Homo sapiens: one gene and its partners. The protein of the gene in region 2 interacts with the protein of the main gene of each other region in a biochemical or structural test. Each region holds a gene or a part of one and is shown on either strand. Other genes may lie near its edges.

Region 1 (7,000 bases), on a different chromosome or scaffold from region 2:
AGGGCTGCCTTTCTAACCTTCCCATCTCCATCCCTGGATCTTTTTACCAGTTAGAAGCTGCAGCAAGGATGGCAGCTTCATTCAGCACCTAACTGCCTGTACCCCACCCACCCAGGAGTCAGGCAACTCCTCAATCCCTTTTTCATTCCTCAGGGAAAGCATACTGAGTCTTCTTTGACTTAAAAACAAAAAACCTCACCAAAATAGGCTCTGCTATTTCTTCTCTTCCCACCCTGGCCCGCCCCCCATTCCTGACAGTGCCTTACATCACAAACTAAGTCCTCTTAACACAGCAGGCAGCCCACCTGCCACTCTCCTCTCCAAGGTTTCCCTACAGGGGTGAGGAGCAGGAGGAGTAAATAACTTAGTTACAATACCATTGAGACGAAAAATAATACTGCTATTTTTAACATGATCCCCTGTATCTTTCAGGCTGGGTCATGTTCCCAGCCATGGGCAATGTGCCCTTGTGCTGTGTCCTCCTCCTCAGGCAGGGCAGAACCCTTCTCCATGCAGGCCCTACATTCCTCTGCCCTGGCTCCAGGGCCAAACTGCAGGGGCATCTAGCTTCTCACCCTGCCCAGCTGTGGTTTTAAAGCTACAGGACAATGTAAACTTTGTTTCCCTGGCCCAGCAAGGCTCCTCCTCCTCCTCCACTCTTAGGAATGTCAGTAGCTCCTTGGAGTCTCCTGTGCCACTGGCTGAGGCAGCCTCTCTCTCCAAGGGGCTTCGGCCATGGTCCTGGCCCCACAAGATGGAAGGATCCATCTCCAGAAGTCAGGGCCAGATGTGTGTGCTTAATGCGAAACACAGTACAGTTTTTGCCTTCATCCAGAGCTGGGGCATGGAGGCCCAAAACAGTAATAACATCTCATTAATGGCTTGGTTTCTGTCTAGCATTCACTGCTGGAATCCAGGCTTCAGGCTGCGAGACCCGGAAGGCCGCCACAGGGGGCTGCTTCCAAAGAACCCAGTTCGCGGCATTCTACAAGGCGCACAGCACCTGCTGCTCTCCAACGAGGCTGGGGTACAACTAGAGGCGGTTGTCTCCATTGACCCGAGTCCTTCTTGGGGCCCTGGACAGAAGGGAAGAGTGTCCTTACTGGCAGGCAGGGCCTTGCAGCCCAATGCCAGACAATATTACAACTTTTCTACCCAGGAGAAAGAAACACTGAAGAAGGAGGACCTAGCCACTGCCTTCCTGGCTCTAGCACCCCTCCATCTTCCTCACCTTCGTTCTCGACTGTCAAAATGGTCTGCGAGATGCTCCTGGGAGATGCGGAAGTCCTCAAACGGCTGCTGGTAGCGGGATTCAAAGGAGCCTTCCCGGGCTCGGCCATGAAACAGCTGGCCTGAGGCATCTGAGCCCCGCTCCCGCAGGGACGTACCACTGAAGGGACTGAGGTCACCATTCTCCTGCTTCAACGAAGCCAGGTGCACAAGAGGGTCAATGACTCCTCTGCACTTCTAGAGGCTGCTGCCTGGCTCTCCTCCCACCTACCCCAGGCCAGCCCACCCCTGCTGCAGATACCTTGGCAGGGAAAATGTCAATCTTGATCAGCAGGGAGGCCAACTCCAGGTCCTCACTGTAGTTGTTCTTCAAAGGCACTGCTCTGTATCCTAGGAGGAGGAAAAGCCTGGCCCTCAGCCCACGAGGGACAGAGCAAGGGGCCCAGCCCCACCCTGCCAGCAAGATTGCAGGGGCACTGCCTCCAGGAATGGTCCTCACCTGTCTTCAGGCCTTTTACTGGGAAAGTAGCCTGAGCCAGGAAATTCTGGTCACTAAACATGTCTTCCTCATACACCACGAAGCGCAGAAAGGCAAATTCAGGGTTACTGATCTGGAAGTGGAAGGGCTTGGCTGGCCATACAGGGTTGAGTCCATTGTCCACTGTGAAGGCAACGACAAAAGGCTTCAGGTCACCGTGGGAGAGGATGGGATGACTGGTGGGGAGAGGCTTGCAGTGCCCCAGCAGGATGAGGAGGATGACTGGGAAGACAGACTGACCCACAAACTCTGTCTTCTGCTTGGTGCTGTCATACTCAGCTCCAGCCACCTCAATCTCCACAAAAGGACACACAATGCCTCGGCCATTCTTTGGCAGATGTCGGGCCCCCAGCACCTGTAGGCAGACAAAGAAGGGCCTGGGATTGTCCTTCCTGCTCCCTCCAATTCCCCACTGCGGAGGCTCAGTCAGCATCTGTGGAGTGGAGGCAGCGCGCCCTCTGCTGGGCCCCCGGGACACTGCCCATGGAGTCCCTCACGACATCAGGGACCCTAAGCTGTCCAGAGCAGCTGCTGCCTGTAGTTTATCTGAAGTCTGAGCTTTAGCCAAAATTTCCATGTGAGTTTTGCAATCTACTTCATGTTAAATCCATTACTATTTTAACACAGAAATCTTTTAAATGACCTCCCCTTAGGGAAAAAAAAGATCTCATCAGAACAAAACAAGTCATCAGAACAAGTCACACCATGGCTCTGCACGTCCTAGATGCATACAGTGACTGCATGCTATCTTCACCCCTTCAAAGACTCAGCTCAGGCCCCACCCACCCTGACCACCTTGATGCCTGAAAATACCTACTTTTGGAGAACTCAACATAAACAGACTCCAACGGCAAGCAGCCCCTTTCCTACCCTGAAGCCCAGATGAGCAGCACCCACCTCAATAGAGATGGCACATGGCTCCAGCCCGCGGAGGCTGCTCTTGTCAAAGGGGTCGAAGGCCTCATCCCGCATGGTGCTTGGCTGCAGCACGTAGCCACAGTGCCTGCCCGTCATGAAGAGGGCCTGGTTCATCTGCATAGGCTTGTCTGGAAGAGGCAGATTATGGTGTATTCCAGTCCAGCTGCCCCACAGTGCCCCTCCTCACCCTCCTCACAGGGGACTTCCTCACCAGGGGTCTGGAAGTTGAGGGCCACAAGCTGACTGCCACAGATCCACATGGGCAAAGGATCGTAGTTGGAGGAATCCAGTCGCTGGCCCTTGGGGTAGATGCGGGAGAGCTGCAGTCGATTGTACTGAAGGAACTTCTTGCCTTTGGCCTTGTTCACGTATTTCTCAGCCTTGGTTTCCGGGAAGGATGACATGTCCCGGTAGCAAGCACGTTCTGTGCCAATCTCTGGGCCAAACAGGGAAAACACTTACAGAGCCCGCCCACCCAGGAAGTGTTGGGGGGATACCTAAATACTCTTTTTGCACCCACCAGGCCCTCCAGGCACATGCACACCCCGCCTGGGCCCTGGCCCTTACTCTCTTCATCAAAGGGAACAGGCCGGCAGTAGACGACAAGTTCAGAGAGCTCCAGGGCAATCTTCTTCCTCCGTTCCATTATCTTCCCTTCAGTGAGCTGGTGACACACACAAGGCCCTGTAGCCCCAGGCTACAGCCCTGCCCAGGAGAAGGAAGCCCCTGCCAACCTTGGGCATGCCCACACTGCAGGTGCTCTGGGCCCCTCTCCCACCTTCCCCTGTACCTTCCAGACACCACACCCAACAGTAAATGAGGGAGCTCTGTCCTCAGCCTCATCCTGAAATCATCTTTCCTCTTTTCTGTCCCAGAGGACACATTTGCCCTCCAACCCTCTTAGGGGGGGTGGGGGATACAGACTCCTCATCACCACCCATGTTCCCAGTGACCTTCCAGGGATCCTGGAATTGGCCACACTCCCAAATGACACTTTCTGACCATTTATTACCCAGCCTCATGCTGGGGTAAAAATGATTCTTCTGTGTTACCTGTGACTGCACTGGGGATACAGGCCCCTGGCTTGGTTTCCATCTGTGTCCTAAGGATGATCCTCACTGCCTCAGCGCCCCCAACTCAAATATAACCACCCACTCTTCATGGCAAATCTCCATGCCAAATCTCTACAGAAGCCCACTTACAAGCACCCCAACCCATCCTCTCCTGGAGGACTTTCTTTCAGTGGCTTTTTTTTTTTTTTTTTTTTTTTGAGACAGAGTCTTGCTCTGTCGCCCAGGCTGGAGTTCAGTGGCGTGATCTCGGCTCACTGCAATCTCCACCTCACGGGTTCAAGCGATTCTCCTGCCTCAGCCTCCCGAGTAGCTGGGATTACAGGTGCCGGCCAACATGCCCGGCTAATTTTTGTATTTTCAGTAGAGACAGGGTTTCACCATATTGGCCAGGCTGGTCTCGAAGTCCTGACCTCAAGTGATCTGCCCATCTCGGCCTCCCAAAGTGCTGGGATTACAGGCGTGAGCCACCACGCCCGGCCTCAGTGGCTCTTACATTCAGACTCTTCCCTTTTCAGCCTAGACCCCCAGATCCAGTCCTTCAACCACCTGGTATGCCAGCACCTTTTCCTTCTAGGGGACAGCCTGGCAAGCACCCTATCCCTTCTCTATTTGGCTTGCGGGTGCCCTCTCCAAAGCAGCTACAGACCCATCTACCAAATGCACTTGGTGAAAGGGCCACCAAGTAGGAATTCCCTAACCCTTGAGAATACTTCTCTGTTCCCCCAGGCTCAGGGGAAGAGGCCACCTTCTCCAGAAGGCTGGTCCTACCAGCTAAGCTTGGGCTCCATCTCCTCCCACACGCTGCTCGCTCCTTTCAGCCATCTGCATGAGAGCCTGCTCAAACCCCAGTCACCTGTTCTCTCCCTCAAGGACAGGCCCTACAAAGGCTCTGCTTTTGCCATTCCAGACTCCCTGCTGCCCACTGCCATCTAATGCCAGCCATGCTGCTGATGCAGCTCAAAAGTCTCACAAGGGCTATTAGCTGCTGCTGAATCCAAAGGGCACTTGCAAGTTCTTATCGTTCCTGTCTTTACCTCTGTAGCTCTCAACACAGCAGACCCTCTCCCTCACCAGTGGCCTGCAGTCTGTCTGACCTGCCTTTCCTGGGCTCCTTTCCTCGCCCATGCCTTCTCATATGGAGCTTCTCAATCCATCCCAAGTTCTCTTCCTATGCGACACCACCTCATCCCTTCTATGCCTCAGCCCCCACTCCACTCCTGCTTCCAGCCCAGGACTTCTCCTCTTACCTCTGGTCTTGTGTATCCAATTGCCCACTAAGCAGACCCACTTCAACGACCCATCAGTATCTCAAACTCAACACAACCTAAACACACCACATTGCATCTTATGTGTCTGTTTCTTCTCAATCCCTAGCTAAGGCAGGGGCTGTGGCCTATCTAGCATAGGCCATCGGCTGCCCCACTGCTCTGAGGGGGCCTGTGCTGGGAGCTGGAGGCCTCAGCTGCCTGACGGGCCCACACACTGCCCCCCAGAAGGTTCCAGCAGAATCTCACCCTGGCGTCTGCTGTCTGGGCCACTTCACGGATCTTTTTCACCCAGTCCTGCAGCTCCTCCTGTGAGTCGGCAGCAACATCCAGGGACCAGTGGGCCACCGACGCCATGCTGATGGAGAAGACGAAGAGCCGGTTGTTCTTGCCCTCAGGACGGATGGCTGGGAGGGCGAGAGCAGATAACAGCTGGGAATAGACATCTCACCCCCTCCACCCCACTCCACACCGCAGGCACTGGCTCAAATGAGTTCTATCTCATCCCATTTCCTCCTTCCCACACCCCATGAGGGGAAGGACTACTCTGCTGGCCCATTTGACAGATGACGACGCTACAACTCAAACAAGTCACTGCTGGTTGTGGTGGAGCCAGTGTTCCAACTCAGCTCTGACTCATGCTTCTTCCTCAGGCCGTGTCTCCCTCTCCACCCCATCTCCAAGCCTCTGTCACATCCCTGTGGTACAACCCATTAGGCCTGGGGATGTCAGCCAACCAGCAGCATCAACTTTGTTCTGCTGATTCTGACGGGTTCCCCAGTGCCTGGCATAGGTAAACATGCAGGGGTCAAAGCTGACAGTGACAAAGGGAGCCCAGGGTGTCAAGGGGATGTCCAGAGCATGGGGAGAGCTTGGAGTGAGGGCAGACTTTGGGGTTCAGCCATCAGCTTCCTCCCTAGGAGCAGGAAAGAGATACAAAGAAGAATCTCACCCTAGGGAACAGTGGGCAAGAGAAACAGATGGGAGCTCACCAATCTGACAAGCCGGCACATCCAAGACCCCCCGCAGCAAGTCCCCTAGGGGGCTGTTCTCGTCCAAGTGCTGTGGGAAGCAAAGCCCACCAATGGTCAGCATGGCTACTGCATATGTGTGTGAGGGGATATCCGTGTGCATGGGACAAATACATCTTGTGGGTGTACCTGTGACTGCCAAATGTAGCACAGGTATATGGGAGACTACGTGCATGGCCACATGGGCTGTGCGACCAGCCCATGTGACAGGTGTCTGTGCATGCACGTGCGTGCTTGGGACTGTGTGATGGGGGCATGCCAAGGAGAATCTGGGAATAGGGAATGCTGTTACTCAGGTGGTTCTGGTCTTACCTCCCTCTCCGGCTCCAGGGCCACGGGGTTGACCATCTCTTCCACGTAGTTTGATGGGAACCACAGCTGCTTCTTCCCTCCGTAGTCCCCTCGCCACCTGTGGGAGCCACAGGGTGCTGACCTCCAGCAACCACCCCGAACTCCCATGAGGAGGGTATCCTTTGGTAGGGGTTCCCATGCCTAAGCCAGGGTGAGGCAGGCACTGCTGGTGCACACAGGAGACAAGCACATCACAAATGCATGTCTTTGGGGCCCCAGCTCCACTGGGGCCCTTGGACTCTGGGCCTACCACACCACTGGCTTACCAGCCTCCCTCTTGCTTCTCCACATTCTGGATGATGGCGCTCTTGATGAAGGTCAGCTCGTCCTCCCTCTGGGCCTTGTAGTCAAAGAGGGCTTTGACTGCACACTGCAGAGGTGAGAAGCACCAGTCAGAGCAGAAAGGCTCTCCCTGCCACTGCCAACCTGGGGCTTCATGTGCACACACACATGTGCTTGGGCTTCCCTGCCTGGGGTCAGGCCAGTGGGAGATGACACTGCCATCAACAGGCCCTAGTTATAGTTCTTGTTACTGCCCTGCAGGGAAGCTCCAGGACAGATATGATCAGAGAGGCAGGGCCTCTGCCAGTGAAA
Region 2 (7,102 bases):
GGAGAAGGAGGGAAAATGACAATCTAGCATAGATGAACAGTCTCCTAAATGCAAATAGAATAGTTGACAGTTATTTTTTTTTAAAAAGTTCTTCTGTCATGTTAATGACACAAAACTTCTCTTTTTTGAAGGCAACACCACCACATTTTGTTTGGGTGTGTGGGGACAGGTGGGGGGAATGCTCTTAAAATTGGTACAATTATTCCTAAAACAACAACAACAACAAAAAAGTACCTCTTTGGTGAAGCCTCGGTACCCATTCAGTTCACCGTAATAATCTGTAAACAGGCCTGTAGTACAGTGCCGGGCCTTGATTTCAACAAGGTCAGGTACCACAGCCTTTCCTCACAGTCCTTTGAGTGATTTTTAAGAAAATATTCTAAAGTAGAAGAGTAAAGCAAAGGAAAACAAAGGAAGATATTAAGATCCCTGTTTAAGTTTTTTTTTTTAAAAGTGCATAATTTGAATTACAAAAACTGTCATGTGGGCCTGCTGGACACTAGACTGTGTTTTCCATCCCTTTAATGATCACTTCACAAAAGATCACTTCACAAAAAGAGGACTCCTGCCTATTGGCCAGAAAAAGTCCCTTTATGATTTTCAGGTGCAATCAGTTGTCCAATTCCTCTAGGTCGGTCTTTCCATATTCTAAACTGGAATACCATTTCCATTGTATAATTACATCTAGGTTAAAATTCATTGTCTTATACTGCATCTTGAAGAAGAGTCGTTAGTGTTTGGAGTTCTCATTTTAACTCCTCAGTGCTGGCACATTCAGTGCATCCATTGCCAGCAATGGATTTGGGGCTAGGAAAATATACATCCCAGTACAGAGGAACTCAGGAAGAATGGGCATTCTCCAACAGTGGTGGTCCATCTCTGTGCATGGATGGGTGTGTGTGCTCCCTTTTGTAAGTTTTTGGAGGGAGTTTAGGGATATGTTGAGAAGTGCTTTGTCGTGGAGGAACAGGCGGCCCAGCAATGGAATGAAGGTCCACTTCTTGTGTCAATGGTGGTGATGGCAGATGCCTTCTTGTGCCGTGAGGAGAAGGTGTTTGAGGAGGAGGTGGTGTAAAGGGGGAAGGGCTGTTTGGGAAGAAGGCATTGCCATGGTCACTTTTTTTGCCCAAAGGGGGAGGTTGGAGATGTAGTGGTGAGCTTGAGAAAACATCAGGTGTCCTCACAGGTTCTCGTGGTGGTAATAAGGGAGGGCTTTCAGGAGGGTCTGAGATAGAGGTCCGGTCTGATATTGAATATCGTGGTGAATAGGCTTTTGATGTGGGTTGCCTAGGAGGAATGGCTGGGGGACTGTCCAAATGCTTAGACATAATCTAACAAATGAAAAGAATAAAATACACATTTATTAATAAATTTATGAAGTATCATGACTATAAGAATTAAGTTGGGGTTTTCAAACATGCTATTGGCAGGATGCTAAGTGTGGAACAGGGAGTTTTGCCATATGTTTTCTTTTTAATTAAAAAAAAATTTTTTTTTTTGAGACAATGCCTTGCTCTATTGCCCAGACTGGAGTGCAGTGGTGCAATCATGGCTCACTGTAGCCTCAACTTCCTGGGCTCAAGTGATCCCCCGACCTCAGCATCCCAAGCAGCAAGGACCACTGGCATGTACCACCATGCCTGGCTAATTTTTTTCATTTTTTGTAGAGTCAAGGTCTTGCTCTGTTGCCAAGGCTGGCATATGTTTTAAATGGGAGGTTCTGTCAATTCATAGAAAAAAAAAGTTTGCCGTAGTTTTTACTTAAATTTTTTTCCTCAAAATTTTGTTTGCTACTGCTTGCTTAGCTTATCACTCAATCTAAGATCATTTCTAATTTAGCATAAAGTACCTATTTTATAATTTTAAGTTAACTATGTTAACATTCATGAAGTTCTACAAAGAGTGTCTTGTCTTGACTTATCCTGGTGCTCTGCACTCTGGACAGCTTAAGAACTAATGAATTAAGTTTAACAGCTGGCCAAAAAGAAAAAAACAAAATTAAATAAGTAGAAATAATAGCTATTTTGAGCCTTTGGGGTCTCTTCCAAACCCAGAATTTTCATGAAAACTCCATTTAAAAGTATGTCAGATTTACTATTAAGGGCTCAGATAAGTAAATTTTAGCATATGTCAAAATACAGTTTGACTTATAATGTGCCTTCATACAAAGCTTCAGGACTTTCTCTGTATGCTTTTAAAGAACTGCTTGAAACCAAATTCCTCTTACTTTACAGATTAAAACTTTTGTTTTTTTCTGAAAATAACCATAGCCTTAGGTTTACAAGGGTCTTGAATGCATACCAAAAAACTACCTTCAGAAGAAAGAAACATTACTGCATGCTAAATCTATATGTAATCCTTGTTTAAACTATTAAGCCTGTATACTCTGAAATGTTAACTTATCCTAGTGAGAACTAAACTAGACAGCCGTTTATTATAATGAACTGTAATGATTCCAATTTCTACACAACAAGATTTCTTACTTTACCTTAGATGGTGAAGATTCTGCTGGGGCAGATTCTGGTCGTCTTCGTGGAGGAACAGGAGGAGGGACAGGCACTTCATCAGTGCCTTTGGTTAAACTTATAGATGATACAGAAGCAGATCCTGTGGGATGTTAAATTTTTAAGAAAAAGTCCACAGGAATTTTATTTCATTTATTTACCTTGAAAAGTCTTAGCTGGAAATTGCTTATAATTAAAAGTAATGTGTAGAAATACCAAAAGCTGTTCAATAAACCAATACCGAATAGTATTTCATTAAAGCAAACTGCCATAAAAGCATGCAGACATTTTTTAGCAGAATATTTAGAAAAAAGCTGCCTAAGGTATTCTGTTATTTTGCCTGAACAAAATAACATTCCCATGGTTACTCTATTATTGAAATTTTTAATTGAGTCTGATTCTCAGATGTCTGGGAGACAGTGAGCTACTGAAAATCTTTGGAATGGTAATTTTTAGATTCTATAATGGGTTCATTTTTTTCTTTGACTTTATTAGAATTTATAGAACTTCCCCACCTTACTGGATAGTCCCTGGGAGTAGAGTGTGTGCTCTTAACCACTCTCTCCAATGTCTCTCCCTAGCATTTCTCTCAAAGGATGCAAGGGAAAGAATCATAGTGTCTAGGTGAGGGGCCTCTCCTCATTTTGTTTAGTTATAGGCTCCCCTTTGCCTGTAAGCAAAAAGAGGCTCATTATACTCTAAATCCAAAAATTTTAACGGTGATGGCACTATTCAAGACAACGGAGGCAGCCCTGACCATGAAAACAGAAATTACACTAAAATCTAGTGAATCTGATTTAAGAATAAGTTGGTGGACTGGCACAAAAAAAGTAAGTAAAGCTACTAATTAGAACCTCTCTTACAGACATTTATGGTAACAAGAACATAAGGTAGGCATATAAATACACTTTGGAAAACAACACTTAAGTTAGTTGTTTATACCTACTATAAAAAAAGATGTGAAAAAAATACTTAAACCATCATTCAAAATTATAGTTGGCAGTTTTTTTTCCCTTTAAGCATTAAGCTTTTTATTTTGTCACATGTTATAAAATATAGAACTTAAAAAGAGTACTTTGTGTACTGATATTATTTAAATGATCAACATTTTGATCACCTACCTTTTTTCTTAAGAATATAGTTAATTCAGCTTGTAACTAGTATTTTCCATTGTACATATTTTGAAATTGTATGAAAGGACAGCAAAAAAATATTAGCTTAAATAATTAAAATAATGGAATTTAGTGACTTGTTAGTTTACCTTACAATTAAAATGGAACTTTATTTTGTTTATCAGTATTTAGGCTATACTTTGAATAATTACAATTATAAGAAAGTTCTTCTAAAGTCAAAAGCAGTTGTCTATAATCTATCCTGCCATCAGGCTAAGTATATTTTGTGATTTAGAAACTGCATGTAGCTGCCAGCATTCCCATATGCGCATGCATGCTCTTGCCTTTTTTTTTTTTTCAAAGTTGAGCATTAAAATATACTTAGAACTCTATAGTTGGAAAAAAGAAATGGTTAAATGTGGAAGCCACTTATTTAATATGTTCTTTTAAGAGAGAAACAAGGTTTTATAAAAAGCATGAGAAATATATAAATTTAAGCAAATCACTTATGATCTAAAGATAGCACAAGTGAAGGCCTCACTTCTAGGATGTTGCAAGCAAGGTACCAATGCTGCCAGACCCAAGAAGAGTTTTAGCAGGAAAGGTTACACTTGGTTTGATTTTTAAAGCCAAAGCAAGAATTATGAGTCTTAAACCAAATATACTAACTTGGGCCATGGGGCAGAGTAACTTGGATAAAGACGGTATCATTGCCTGTGAAAGGAAACAAGAAAAAGTAGATTTTTTTCTTTCATTGATATATTCAACTCATCTGCAAAAATTTGTATTATGATGAAAATGTTATTGTCATTGTCGTTTTAAAGAATGCTGTAACAGTTTATAGTAAAACCTCATTACTACTTACTTTTGAGAAGAAAAAAATGATATCATATTGGGAATTTAAGATTCCTTTTAGCTTTACTTGATTTCATAATTATTAAATGAAAAACATTCATAAAAAAATCGTATATTACTGAAAGACTTTTTAAAATGTAGAAACCCAATTCAAGCAAAAAGTTCAGCTGGATGTATATAAATATGCCATTTAGTAAATATTATTTTGAAAACTCAAACTTGTGAAACAAGTAATAAGTTTATTTTATGTAAGTTGAAAAATAAAAAAGTTACTAATTATATGTCTTTCAAAAATGTTCTTGGGGCATATATTCTCATCACAAAATAACTAGCACTTTGGATATAAAACAAGCTTGAAATTGATACAGGGTTTTTCCTTTTATAGTCATAAACATTTTTTTTAAAGTCATTAAACATTTGGTGCCTAGACTCATTTTACATAGGAAATTCTGATAAATTTAAATTTAGAAAGTCTAATTTCAACAATATTAATTATTTTAAGGAAAAAACTGAAAATCAAAAGCGAAAGCCCCAAGAGCATTAAAGTAGGAAAATTGAGACAAAAAGCTAGGTGATCTATACTGATTCTAAATCAATATAGTTGTTTGTTTGTACAGTGTCTCATATTAACAACAGATGGAACAGATAACGTTATAACATCCAAGAGACTAAAATAATACTAGACTGTGGTAATTTTTTTTAAATTCAGATTTCGTTTTTTTTTTTTTGCACAATAGGCAATCCCTCACATAATTTGGAATATTAAGTTTATTCAAGCATATTTGGTCAGAAGGAGGGTGATCTCACATTCCAGATTTCTAGGCAGCCCTAATTTCAAATAATCTGTCCCATTATCTGATTTCCGTATGTACTGATATTTATTTGGAACCTATGATTCCTAAGTGTAGCAATCCAGCTAATTCTAATATTACCTTTCAGAAGATTAAAATTCATTTTTCTACTCTGAAATTACATGAAGCTGTTGCTCTGCCGATGATTTTCTTCCCTATTAGCCACCTATAATTGAAGATTGCCTGGTTGTAAAAGGGAGCCAGAGATCTGACGTAATAGAGATTAAAGGAGTATCTAGCTCTAGCGTTTACCCTACTTATATATGTCCCACTTTTCCTGGAAAAGAAATAAACATATCTCCTGGAGATATGCCTCAAGAACATGATAGTACACTTAATACAATACAGGAATAGGAGTAAAATCAAAACACAAGCTCATGACTGTTACAACTATAGTCTTTAATTGTACATATGCATGCACACTTGTGTACACAGATGTAAACTTGGCTTTGAGTATATTTATATATAGCACAGGCTTAGACTCATGCATTTGGTAAATTTGGGGCACTAGTTGTCTTATTGCCTGGAAAATACTATAGAAATTCTTTTAGAATTTTACATGCACTAATCAAGAAATATATGCTAGAAATTCTTGTCAGTTAGATACTGAGTAAATTTACTGATAATGACTTAGAAGTGAAATCTAATTAATTTAAAAAACAGTATTAATTTATTAAGCATAATCCCAGATGACAGACAAATGGTCCTCAATCTTGGCTGTACATTAGAATCCTATGGGAAGTTTTTAAAAAATACTGATACCAGGTACCAATGCCAGTCTAGTGTGGGCTGGGCCTACATATTTTTTTTAAGCTCCTCAACAGATGATACTATACAGTCAGGGTTGAAACCACTCTTAAAGATACTCCCCAGTTTATAAAGGAGTCATTCTTGATAGAAACAAGCATTTTTCTATAGAAAAAAAAAAAAAGATATGATAGATAACTTCTTAAACTCACAAAAGCCTGGTAAATGCAAATATATTTGGGATTAGAAACTCATCACCTACAGCAATCTTCCAGGAGGAAAAGCCTTGCGTTATCAGCTTGACATACTTGTAATACATTCTTTTTGTTGTTAAAGAGTCCCCTAAGGGATGGAAATGGAGAAGTCAGACCTCTGACTCCCTTTTATGACCAGGCAATCTTCAAACAGGAAGGTAAAAAGAGCATTTCATCATTTTCTCCTCTCTATTATAGCAGCAGAAACAAGTAGTGAGCCAGTGGTCTTTTCTCTTTTCTCAGCAACTGTCGTCATCACCTCAAAGGTGGACCTGGCCAGGGCAAGGTGTGGAGCAGGGCTTTGAATGTATGTGTGGCAGCACTAAGTACGTGGCCACTTCTCTGCCCTGTCTTTGCCACAACGCTTTCCATGACCACTCTTGCTCATTCTGAGGTCATCTTTCTATAAGCTTCTCCAGTATTTATGTCTTTACCACTATTTTTAGCGTTTAACTGTGAATCTCTTTGCACTATGATTATTTTTAATCTCTCAGTAAGACTGCAAGCTTTCCCAGTGAAGACGTGTAAGTGTTTAGCAAGGAATAAGATATGCAGCAGATACTGGCTGAAATAATTAATTATAGGTTTTTAAAAGTAGATTATTTTGGGAAAAAACCGTAAGAGTAAAAAAAGAATAGTATAGTATTATAACTGATAAAAAAAAATTCTAGTCAAACTCTGCCTTTTGAAAAACTTAAACAATGGAACTTTGTACTGCTTTGAGTGGAATATGTTGGGATGACATATGACTGCAGTCAAGGCAGTTCTTTTCTGCCAGG
Region 3 (7,000 bases), on a different chromosome or scaffold from region 2:
CACTTGAGGAAAAAGAGTCACATATTGCTTTCTCATGCTACATTAATTCCAATAATAGGACACTATGAGTGGGTGACCTGGGACCTAAAACGATTGTTTGTCATTGTGCATACCATACGCTACCTACATGAACAATGATGTCCAACATTAACACGCAAATAAAGTCAATGAAGAAAAGACAGGACAGAAAACAAAAAGAGATCGGAATGGTGACCCACACTACCCCATTTACACATTGAATACTTTTCTTTCTACCATGGTAGCATATCTTTCATAAATACACTAAACAAACGGTGTTGGTTATAGAAATAGGAAAGCATGAGTTGCATGTCTATTTATAGATTTAATTTAAAAGTTTCTTAACAACATCAAAAAATATAAACTTAAAGTATTTTAACCATGTTTTCTGCTGGGAAATGGTAAACAAATGCATGCCTGAAGTTAAACTTGGTCTCTAACATGTTCAGTTGAAAGTTTCTAACTACAGGGTATATTTGCTTGTTTCAAAAAATACTTATGTCTGTTGTTCTTGATACAAAATTCTACACTATCTTCAATAAATAAATAATAAAGTATTTCTTAAAAGTATGAAATGTAAACTTTGTTGTCCTTTCCAACACACACTTTTAAAAAAATTGCTTGAAGTATGACCGGGCTCTCATGGGAAATGATAACACTACACATTCAGTTCCCAGCAAAGGAGGTACTCTGCCACAACGCTGATGCTATCATTTAGAAAGCACTTTGATAACCCTAATTAAAGTCTAAGGACCTACAATCAAAGAGAACACCATCTAGTACAGGAAAGCTAGACTCCAGTACCAACAGAACATGCAAAGGACATTTCATGACCACAACAAACTAGGATTATGAGAATATTAACATGCAAACAAAACACGGCCCCCACTTTTCATTAGCAAATCAAGTTACTATCTAACTAACCAGATGATCTCCTGGCATTTAAGGGAAAAAAAAATTAAAGAACTCAAACCAAACAGCTTGGCACATAGTCATAAAGTCCTGACTCTTGCAACAAGCATATTATGTGAGGTTGGGGTGGTGGAGGGTGGAAAAGTGTCTTAGGTCTTTGCCCCGGGATGTGCGGGGCTTGCATCCTCCTAGGGTCTTTCACCCACCACATAATGGACTGCCTTCATTTTCTTTCCCAACCTCCAGCTTGATATTTTTCCTTTTCACGCCTTGGGGATCTAGGACATGGCTTTTTGGGGAACGTACCAAAAAGAGCTGTTGAAATGTCCTACAACAATCAGGATTCAGCACATTCAAGCACAGAACAGGTCACCAGCAACGACTGCTGCTATGAAATATCACAGGCCTCCGAGCCAAAAGAGATTTTTCCAACATGGCTGCCAACCGAGACCCAGTGACCCAACATTGTAAAGTTGCCTTTCCAGTGACCTGTAGTGATCTGATCCAGCAGAGGGGTGACTTTCTAGATAATGACTTTCTGTGACCATATTCTAAGCATGCTGGGAATCAGAACTGAATCCACGCAACAATACACCAGTGTGTTTTCATTGACATATATTAATACAAGGCCTAGAGGGGGAAGGAACGGCTATAACGGTGCACATGCTGGAAACTTCCATAGACCAGCTCTTCAAAGAGCTAAGCCAGGGCCTGATCAGACCGTCTCACCGAGTGATCAGCTCTAGGCAGCATTTCCCTGCAGGAGAGATGGGATTCTGAAGCAATGACAGGACCGTCATAATTGTTTCTAAACTCACACCAAGGACTGGGCATTGTAGGCCAAGAAGTCTACTTGGGGACTGGTGGATGTAAGAAACAGGAGGGTTACATGAGTTCTCCAAAAATATAGACATTGCATTTATAAATCTATTTTATAGTAACCAGACCCATCCCTCAAGCCCGGGAAGGGGCTAGACTCCCAGCTGCACCCTGTTGAGGGCTATGGGATTTCAGCGACCCTAGAAGCCATAATGAGACCTGTAGTGAGGACAAAGGAAAACACAGCTTTGTTTCATGAAACAGGAAATTGTTTCGGGGCAGGGAGGATTGTCGAGAATGATTCCTAGGAGCTTTGAGGGGCCTGTCTTTGCCATCCCATATCCCTGTGACTGAATACCAAATGGTGGTTTCTTAGAAAAGGAATACAATTTCCAGACAGCATGTGTGGCCGTGGGCTGGGACCCTGCTGAGCACACCCTGAGCCCGCTGCCTACGGCTCATCAAACAACTGCAGGTCCAAGCGGACCACAATCTCTCCCGTGGGGACTTCGTGCAGCAGAAGACACTTCGTAACTGGACCTTTGGAGCCCTGGTCTTTCTTGATGTCCGCCACACGGATCTCCGTCCGACCCAAAAAATCTGAAAAGAGAACAAACAGACCCTCCTAAGAGGGACCATTCCCTCTCTTCGAGGCACATGTCTGGCATATTGGGGACCCCCTGATGAACTGTTATGCTCTCCCTTCTTCTCTGGGCTCTGATGTAAACCAACACTAGGATTTCCAACTCGCTCCCCAGCGGAGTTGCCAATGTGTCATGGTATTTCATTACTTAAATAAAAAAAAAAACCCAACCCCAACCTTTATCTCTCAGAATTAGAAGGTGGCCGGGCACAGTGGCTCGCGTCTGTAATCCCAGCACTTTGGGAGGCCGAGGCAGGAGGATCACTTGAGTCCAGGAGTTTGACACCAGCCTGGGCAATAGAGTGAGACCCTGTCTCTACAAAAAATTTTTAAAAATTAGCCTAGCATGGTGGTTCATGCCTGTCATCCCTGCTACTTAGGAGGCTGAGGCAGGAGGATTGCTTGAGCCTGGGAGGTGGAGGCTGCAGTGAGCTGTGATTGCACCACTGTGCTCCAGCCTGAGTGACAGAGCGAGAACAACAAGAAAAAAGATAAATAAATAAAAAAAATAAAAAGAAAAAAGAATTAGAAGTTGACAGTACACATAGTAGTTAAGAGCCCAGACTTGGGAGCCAAACTGTTCCAGTCACACTCAAACATTTAACCAGCTACCACAACGAGTACCTAACTCACAATGAGATAATTCATATAAAAAGTACTAAAAGATGAAGGCCATATGGAGCCATTTAAACCTTGTACAGATAATGCTAGCATTTGACCCTCACTTCTTCGGTTATAATTAAGTTGAGACCATAATCTTTTAACTTACTCTGTGATTTTTTTTTTTTTGGAGACAGGATCTTGCTCTGTTGCCCAGGCTGGAATATAGTGGTACCATCATGGCTCACTGCAGCCTCGACCTCCCAGGCTCAAGCAATCCTCCTGCCTCAGCCTCCCGAGTAGCTGGAACTACAGGTGCATGCCACCATGCCTGGCTAAGTTTTGTATTTTTTTGTAGAGACAAGGTCCCACTATGTTGCCCAGGCTGGTCTTAGACTCCTGGGCTTAAGCGATCCTCCTGCCTCAGCCTCCCAAAGTGTTGGGATTCCAGGCCTGCAGCACCATGCCCACCGGTGATTTTTATTGGGTTGAGGGAGAGACAGGTAGTTTCTTGGAATCATTGGGCTGAGACTATTCTTTTCCAGGCCCAAGCAGAAACAGAAGGCTGGCTGAAGAAATGATTCATTCAACATGACTGCATCCCTTTGCCTACTTAATAAGTGGTACAAAAATGCCACCCAAAGGGACCTGGCCCATTCTGCGGCTCCTGTTGTGGGCTAACATCCTTGTTCCATTGGCCAGTTTCATCCATTGCCAGCACAGCTTTTTGCCAAGGACTGAAGAACTATGCTGAGGCTCTTAAACACACCCCTCTCCACAGTCACCTGCTTTGGAAAGCAGAAGATGGACGTGTTTGCCCAGGGCAGCTGGCACAATTCTAGACCAAGCATGCTCTGTCCACATGCAATGAGACGCCTCCAGAAGACTCCTCCAGGGGAGACAGAGCCTCGTCTTGTGCCAGCCAGCCTCATCTCTCAGGAGGGAAACCGAAGGAATCCTGGCACCAAGTCCCCAGGTAAGAAAACATTAACCCACGCAAACGAGTGCCAGGGAAGGAGGAATAACCACAGGGCCGCGTTCCACTCACCATCTGGTGAGAACTGGTCCCTCTCGAACACAGTGATGCAGAGGACTTCCTGCTCCAGGTCTCGGATGAAGAACTGGCAGTTGGAATTCCACTTGGGGTTCAGAGTGTCCTGGATCGTCTTGGTGATGTGGCACTGGGAACCCATGGTCACCTCACAGTACGGGTTGCTCTTTCCTGGAGGGAACAAAAGCCTTCGCCAGGTGGAACTCACACCTCATTTTGATCTCCACTCTTTTTTTTTTTTTTTTTTAGATGGATTCTTGCTCTGTCGCCCAGGCTGCAGTGCAGTGGTATGATCTCAGCTCATTGCAACCTCCACCTCCTGAGCTCAAGTGATTCTCCTGCCTCAGTCTCCTGAATGAATAGCTGGTATTACAGGTGGCTGCCCCCATGCCTGGCTAATTTTTTATATTTTTAGTAAAGACGGGCTTTCACCATGTTGGCCAGGCTGGTCTCAAACTCCTGACCTCAGGTGATCCACCTGCTTTGGCCTCCCAAAGCACTGGGATTACAGGTGTGAGCCACCATGCCCGGCCGCTCCCCACTCTTAATAACTGCTATGCTTAATAAGTGTCATTCGGTGGAGAATCCGGGTGGAAACTCCCAGAAGTCAGCTTCATCCTTAAACTAAAAACAAATACTTAATTGAGTGGGCTTTGAAACTAGGCCCTTCCTGTCTCGTTACTTTGGCCTGATCTTGTGTCACATCCACTGTGAATGCAGCCACTCAGATCCCTCGGAGAAGCAGAATGGTAGAAAGGATGGAAAAAAAAACACAAAACCTCCAGGTTTTTAACAAGTGCTAGTTAAACCAATTCTGGAAGGAGATCAGGGAGTATGGAAATAGCACATTTGATCTAGAGCCAGGTGGGGGTGTGGGGAACCCGGACCCTACTCCCAACCCCAAAGCAGGAGCCGGGGGCGCCTCACAGCCTTACCATGTGACCGACAGGGTTTCAACTCGATGCCTTCAACCACGTTCACCATCAACCTTCCAATGCCTGTTGCCCTTTGGGAACGGACTATGACGGCAGGAAAAACACAAAATGCTTCATTTGAACGTGCCACACCTTTCCCATCTCTGTGAGCCTCACAATGCATTTCATGTACCTCTCCCGACTCAAAAGTAATTCTTCCCTCTCCTTAAACACTTGCTTCCTTGCTCCTGGAATTTGCCCTCCATCCCCATCTGCATCCCACCCCAAGCTCACTTCCATCTCATTCCATGCCCCTCCTCTAGGTCCAGGGGATTCTTCTATTCTGAGGATTTTCAGCCCAGCCAAATGGCCCTCCCTCCTGCCCAGCTGTGCAGGACACCCCGCGGGGCCATGCATTACCCAGGTACGCTTTCTCGCGCTTCTTTTTCTCAGTCTCTATGTAGAGTTCAGAAGCAGCTTTGATTTTCTGCACCCAGGCAGTCCTTGGACAGAAAAAGACAGAAAGTTGCCAAACAGAAACTCAGGAAAAAGGCTTCAGGTCTGTTCAAACACTGTTGCCAGGACTCTGTTTCTTTGTTCATTTGATTTTAACAACAAAGGCTCGGGAAAGAAAATCTGATTTTATGTCACGTGACGCTAATACTTATTCCTGCCATCGATAAGAAAGGCATGAGGGCCATTTCCATGGATGTCCTCAAGACCTGCGATGATGTCCCCGGGGAAGAAAATCTGTGATAGATGCTGTCTTGGAGGCAACATCGGGACACGACTCCTCTTCCTTCCTTACCGAAGAGCAGCACATATTTGCCTAATCCAACAAAGCCAGAAGGATCTCGCTTATGAAATCACGCAAAGAAAGAACAAAAACCACTTCCCAGATTGGGAACCACTTCACACGAAAGACCAAAACGCCTTGGGGGAAGGCATTTGTGGCCGCGGTTTTCTCCTTCATTTTTTCTGAGAACCATATGCACAAAAGCTTTAGCCAATTTTCTTGCTTGGTGCAAATGCTCTTTGGAATGATGCTGGCCTTGTGTCAAGTTCACCCTTCAGAAAATGATCTATTTCATTTGGCTCCAGGGCAGTGTCTTGAAGACAGATTGAAGCAAAATACCCACAGCCCTAGGTTCCAGAATGCCCATTTAAGTCAGCCAAGGTGAGGAGAGGTTTGGGTTTGCGTGGTCCTATTAACCCCGAAATTACTTTCCTATTGGTTTCTGCCACCTGGGAAGCCAGGGGAAACCTGAGATGCTCTGTTTACCTCAAAGAATGCGAAACATTTCTTAATAAAACAACAACAACAACAACAACAATGCCAGGTGCAGTGGCTCACCCCTGTAATCCCAGAATTCTGGCATTCTGGGAGGCCAAGGCGGGTGGATCCCTTGAGCCCAGGAGTTTAAGACCAGCCTGGGCAACATGGCAAGAACCCATCTCTACAAAAAAATATAAAGAATTAGCCAGGCTTGGTAGCACATGCCTGTAGTCCCACATACCTGGGAGGCTAGGGTGGGAGGATTACCTGAGCCCAGGAGGTTAAGGCTGCAGTGAGCTGTGACTGCACTACTGCACTCCAGCCTGGGTGACAGAGTGAGACTCTGCCTTAAAAAAAAAAAAAAAAAAAAAAACTCAAGCAAAATTAGTTTGAATCCATGTTATTTTGGAAAGGGCATGCCATGTGACAGATTTTTGAGAGGCTGTAGAAAAAAGTAATAGCCCCATCCCCACTCCCAGCTAGGGGTGATGGCATTGCCACTTGGGAAACATTGGCACCTGATTAATCACCCGCCCCTTGTGTGTCCTAGAGCCGTGGAGCCCTGGGGCCCATGCTGGGGAGGCGGCAGGTCTCACCTTTCATTTATGCTTTCTGCTCGGAGAGTATAGACGCGGTCAATGTGGGAGATGTGGAAGATGGGCTCGTCTCCAGAAGGGTCGGTGGGTAATTTTACTAGAACCTCATTTAGGAAAATAGGCTGGAAAGTAACACACAGGCATTACAAAGCGAGGCTGGGGGTCTGTGTG

The links. The genes of interacting proteins can lie anywhere in the genome.
Region 1: the proteins of SOS1 (region 2) and PLCG1 form a complex in vitro, tested with the Homo sapiens proteins (2 studies listed by BioGRID and IntAct, with this or other methods).
Region 3: the proteins of SOS1 (region 2) and ITSN1 form a complex in vitro, tested with the Homo sapiens proteins (2 studies listed by BioGRID, with this or other methods).

What each region holds. Positions count from the first base shown.
Region 1 is NC_000020.11:41,168,543-41,175,542, reverse strand, and holds part of PLCG1 (1-phosphatidylinositol 4,5-bisphosphate phosphodiesterase gamma-1), read right to left. Parts: intron 6,777-7,000; coding exon 6,673-6,776; intron 6,521-6,672; exon of another isoform or gene 6,465-6,520; coding exon 6,368-6,464; intron 6,087-6,367; coding exon 6,017-6,086; intron 5,432-6,016; coding exon 5,274-5,431; intron 3,351-5,273; coding exon 3,254-3,350; intron 3,123-3,253; coding exon 2,898-3,122; intron 2,815-2,897; coding exon 2,666-2,814; intron 2,124-2,665; coding exon 2,009-2,123; coding exon of another isoform or gene 1,892-2,008; coding exon 1,730-1,891; intron 1,621-1,729; coding exon 1,532-1,620; intron 1,420-1,531; coding exon 1,232-1,419; intron 1,077-1,231; coding exon 1,034-1,076; 3' UTR 1-1,033. UniProt on the Homo sapiens protein: Mediates the production of the second messenger molecules diacylglycerol (DAG) and inositol 1,4,5-trisphosphate (IP3). Plays an important role in the regulation of intracellular signaling cascades.
Region 2 is NC_000002.12:38,984,985-38,992,086, forward strand, and holds part of SOS1 (son of sevenless homolog 1), read right to left. Parts: intron 4,331-7,102; coding exon 4,286-4,330; intron 2,608-4,285; coding exon 2,489-2,607; intron 1,332-2,488; coding exon 840-1,331; 3' UTR 380-839; coding exon of another isoform or gene 326-379; 3' UTR 1-325.
Region 3 is NC_000021.9:33,883,501-33,890,500, reverse strand, and holds part of ITSN1 (intersectin-1), read right to left. Parts: intron 6,952-7,000; coding exon 6,830-6,951; intron 5,461-6,829; coding exon 5,378-5,460; intron 5,063-5,377; coding exon 4,979-5,062; intron 4,215-4,978; coding exon 4,041-4,214; intron 2,350-4,040; coding exon 2,201-2,349; 3' UTR 1-2,200. UniProt on the Homo sapiens protein: Adapter protein that provides a link between the endocytic membrane traffic and the actin assembly machinery. Acts as a guanine nucleotide exchange factor (GEF) for CDC42, and thereby stimulates actin nucleation mediated by WASL and the ARP2/3 complex.